Homo sapiens: one gene and its partner. The protein of the gene in region 2 purifies or fractionates together with the protein of the main gene of each other region. This does not show direct contact. Each region holds a gene or a part of one and is shown on either strand. Other genes may lie near its edges.

Evidence for each region. Proteins that work in one complex are often made in the same cells at the same time.
Region 1: the proteins of CEP89 (region 2) and KCTD18 purify together in Homo sapiens (affinity purification with mass spectrometry; one large-scale study listed by BioGRID and IntAct). This does not show direct contact.

Annotation. Positions count from the first base shown.
Region 1 is NC_000002.12:200,490,764-200,493,068, forward strand, and holds part of KCTD18 (BTB/POZ domain-containing protein KCTD18), read right to left. Parts: intron 1-2,305.
Region 2 is NC_000019.10:32,875,425-32,877,958, reverse strand, and holds the end of CEP89 (centrosomal protein of 89 kDa), read left to right. Parts: 3' UTR 1-2,034; downstream 2,035-2,534. UniProt on the Homo sapiens protein: Required for ciliogenesis. Also plays a role in mitochondrial metabolism where it may modulate complex IV activity.

The DNA.
Region 1 (2,305 bases), on a different chromosome or scaffold from region 2:
ATCTCCCACCAAGGTCAGTAAGCAAGTTTACAAAAGATTGGTCTTAATTTGAATACGAATTATGTAAACTCACACACATAATATTAATACTAGCAAATTAAAATTTGGCACTTTACATAAGAATACAATATATCACCCTGTTCCCAAGTATCATGATGTGACCTACGGGATAACCAGAAATATCACAAATTGTTTTTCCCAGAACTGCAGTTTAAAGAGATTTAGTAAAGAAAAAAAAAGATTTCACAATCAAATAAATATTAGAAATATTGCTTGATATAGTTTGGCTGCATGTCCCCCCCGAAGCTCATGTTGAAATGTGATCCCCAATGTTGGAGGTGGAGCCTGACAGAGGTGTTTGGGTCATGGGGGAGGATCCCTCATGAATGGCTTTGTGCCCTCTCCCATGGTAATGAGTGAGTTCTCACTCTATTCGTTCACGTGGGAGCTGGCTGTTTAAAAGCCTGGCATCTCTTGCTGTCTCTCACCGTGTGACATATCTGCTTCCCTTCACCTTCTGCCATGATTGTAAGCTTCCTGAGGCCTCACCAGAAGCATATGCTGGCCCTAACCTTCTTGTACAGACTGCAGAACCATGAGTCAAAATAAACCTCTTTTCTTTATAAATTACCCAGCCTGATAGTCCTTTATAGCAATGCAAAACTAATAAACTGCTGCATATCTTTTTTTCTTCTTGAAGCTTTAAAATTCATGTTAACATATTAAAGATTATGAAAGGCCTATACTAAAGATATCTGTATTTCCCAATCATTCTATAGTGAAACCTTTGATGGCCAGTAAAATTTGCATTCTTTGGAACCCATTTTGGGGACTGCTAGAACAGTCATGGACAAACCTTCAAAGATTCCAGAACTGAGTTTACCATTCATTATAAAAAGCCTACGGGGGAACATTTTTTTAAATGACCTTAAAACCGTCAAACAATCATTGTCAAAACCTTGCCTGCTCCTTCAGCTTCACTTCCTGAGGACCACCCCAAGCATGAAAGGTGACTGCAATCCTCTCACTCTGCTCTCTTGCAAGTCTGCATAGCATCAATGTGTCATTAGAGGCGATTACAACTTATTCAACTCCCATTCTTGGAAATGGGATCATAATAACGTGGTTATTTGAAAATTGCCATCTGTAGCAAAGAGTGCAAATATAATATATTCAACCCTAAATCCCTACTGAACATTTTCCCTGGTCACCAGATGGCTCCTTGGGACCTTACAAGTGCTTCTCAGTCATCATCATCGTTATCCTGTTGATGCATCAAAAATAATGCTTCGTAAACTTGTAGAGGAAAGATAACTAACACAGAGGAGGGTCTCCGTAAACCACTCCTGCCTGCCTGCTATGTTTTCCATCTACATCTTCCACCAGACTCCACACTGAGGTTTCTCAACCTCGGCACTATTACCATTTTGGTCACATAATTCTTTGTTCTGGGGGGCTGCCCTGTGCACTGTAGGATGTTTAGCAGCACCCTTGGCCTCTACCTTCTAAATGCCAGTAGCAACTCTCACCCCACAGTGTGTCAACTAAAAATGTTGCCAAACATTGTCAAATATCCCCTGGAAGGCAAAATCACCCCTCGTTGAGAACCACTGCTCTTGACTCAAATATATTTGCTAACTGTAGGCTCAAAAGGTAAAATAAATGATAATAAAATTATGGCTTTTAAGAAATAAGATCTGTTTTGACAAGTGATGGTTAACTACTAAAAACTGAATAAGCATCTCCGCATTTCAGTGAAAGACCCAGAGGGCAAATGTAAGAAAGTAGTCTGAAATTCCATACGGGCATTCAATTAAATTGTAGAACATGTGATCAAGAAATCAGAACATCTGAAGGCCATGAATAAAACCCAGACACTGTAAAAAAAATGTGATTTTAAATGTATTTAAAACACAGTGAAAGACACAGCTGTGGAGTGAATTTAATGCTAATAATTTCATGGAACACAGGAAAATACCATTTAATAAAAGTGCTATTTGTGGCAATAGGAAACAGAAAGGAACTCAGAATAAGCCACAAGAAATTTCAAGTATTAAGTCTAAATAGATTTTTTTTTTACTATTGCCAGTAAAGCCTGGGATTCCACTTCTGTGGAGCAAAAATATTTACCACAGCATGCCCACTGTGTCCACTAGTAATTTTAGAATCACTCTCTCAATAAGAACATGTTACACATGCAGTTACAAAGAATTATAGCCACTTTTTACATAGTTTTGGTAACTTTATATTTATCAAGATCTATATTTTGATGGTAAGACAGAATATTCAAATCGGTGATTAATAA
Region 2 (2,534 bases):
AAAATACAAAAATTAGCTGGGCATGGTGGTGGGTGCCTGTAATCCCAGCTACTTGGGAGGCTGAGGCAGGAGAATTGCTTGAACCTGGAAGGCGGAGGTTGCAGTGAACCAAGATCACGCCATTATACCCCAGCCTGGGCAGCCTGGGCAACAAGAGCGAGACTTTGTCTCAAAAAAAAAAAATTTTTTTTTTGGTAGAGATGGGGTCTTGCTATGTTGCCCAAGCTGGTCTCAAACGTCTAGCTTCAAGCAATCCTCCTGCCTAGGCCTCCCAAAGTGTTGGGATTATAGGTATGAGCCACCGCGCCTGGTCTGGGAAGGTAATTGATTCTGGAGCCACACAGCTCCCCACCCATGTAATGAGAGCCCTGGCTTTGAGCTAAGATAGAGTCCCTGCCCCACTGCCACCACCAAGAAGCATACCAGGGGGCCATGGTTCTGTCCCATGTGTGTTAGATGACGTGCCACCTCCTCAGGAAAATTACCCCAGCCGCTCAGGACCATTCAGTCCCAGGCATGCTGGAGGGACTTGGGGACATTGGGCTACAAAGGACCCTAACTGTGGGACTCAGGGGTGGCACCCTGCAGCATCTCCTTTTCAGAGCCCCTCGCAGTGAAGTCCTGCCTTGTTTCAGGTGGGAAGGAGGCCCCAGTACTGGTCCTTGGTCATGTGTAGAAGTTCTACGTGTGATCTTTGATTGCCAGACGGAAGGGTGAGATAGAAAATCATAGTTCTTTTATGACTCTATAAGCTTGTTCAACAGTTGAATCATTGTAATTTAATTTTATTTTACAAGCGGTAGAAAGACTCACTGGGATTGAAAACTGTGTATCATCTCCCTAGGAGATGACCTAACAAATAACTGTGATGCTATTTCAAAGGCATTTACGGCCGCTCTGCAGCCTCCTGTAGACAGGCTGACAGGCGGCGGCAGCCCAGCGTGGCTGCGCGGGGCAGGAGTGCTTGTCAGCAGGAATGCTGCTCCCGCCATCGTGACCTAGAGAACCACTGTTGACATCCCTGTCTTTCTGCCTTTTATGCAAACATTTTATTCTTTTGAGAAGTGTCCACTTTTGTTCTTATGTTTCTGCTTTAAGTTTTTCACACAGTGCAAACATACTTTGCAAGTATGGGGACTCCTGGATGGCACTGTGACCAGGGCAAGGGCAGGTGTCCCACAGACACTATCTTCTGCCCAGCCTCCTGCTGGGTGCCATAGGAAATGGGCAGAGAAGCCACGAGTCCAGGATGCCAAGGAGGGCGGGGCAGGCAAGGCAGAGAGGCACCTGGGTGCTTGTGAGATTCCAGGAAAGGACAGAAACATTGGGGTGCTTCTGGGAGGAACTGGCACGCCCCGGCCCTTGCAGAGTGGACAAGGTTTCAGGAGCTACAGAAGGGTGGAGAGGGCCCCCAGGAGCACAGCAGGCACTCAGAGCAGCAGGAGGGGGTTTGGTCAGAGCTTGGGTGGGAAATGAGGCCGGACTGCACAGAGGAGAACTGGGTCTGCTGGGAGGGGCTCCTCCTTCCCCATGCTGCAAGTGTCTGGTCTGAGCAGGGAACCCTTCTCTTTCTTGGTCCTGGTGAGGTTTCATACGGCATTGGAAGATTCCTGGTCAAGCAGCTGTAGAACATGACCCAGGCACGCGAGTGAGCCTTGCTGGCTTTGCCATTATTTAAAAGCAGCCCTGGGCATGGTGATGGCGCCTATGGTTTCAGCTACTCAGGAGGCTGAGGTGGGAGGATCACTTGAGCCTGGGAGGTTGAGGCTGCAGTGAGCTATGATCATGCCACTGCACTCCAGCCTGGGCAACCAGGTGAGACCCTGCCTCAAAAATAATACAATAAAAAGTAAAAGCAGCCCTGGGGAAATGGAGACAGTGGACAAAGCAGGCTGGGGCACCAGGTGTGCATGTGGGTGTGAGTCTGTCATGAGAGCTGTCCTGAATGCCCTTAACGCCACTGAACTGTATGCTGGAAAACAGTGACAACAGTGGATTTTGTTATATAGACAATTAAAAAAGAAATAACACCCAGGCCTGCTTCCTGAGTGTTTGTGTCATTTTACTTTCCCACCACCAACCTCCGCGCAAGTTCCGGTTGCTCCGCATCCTCATCAATGCTTGGTGGTGTTGTCAATAACTGTGTTGAGAGGACAGAGATTTAAGGCCGAGGGTGGCCTAGCATTTAGCCTCGAGCGCAGCTGTCACTGGCTCCTCACCCCCTCCCCTACCTGTATCGTTGGCGGGAATGAAAGGCACAGTCCCCAGTGTGGGTGGCTCAGGAGAGCCCTCCCTGGGCCCAAGCAGCTCTTCCAGCAGGGAGGGCTTGAGCCGGATACAGATCCCACAGCAGGAGGCTGAGCCTCTTGGGATGGGGCTGGGCTGACATCTGAATTCTTGAGTAAGACTGGAAACATCATCCACTCAAAACTTGGCTGGGCGGCATGGGGAGGGCTCAGTGTGCCCAGGTTTGTGGCACCTCTCTGCTGGGTCACAGCTGGGCAGGGGTCCACAGGTAAGGAGTGGCTGCAGCC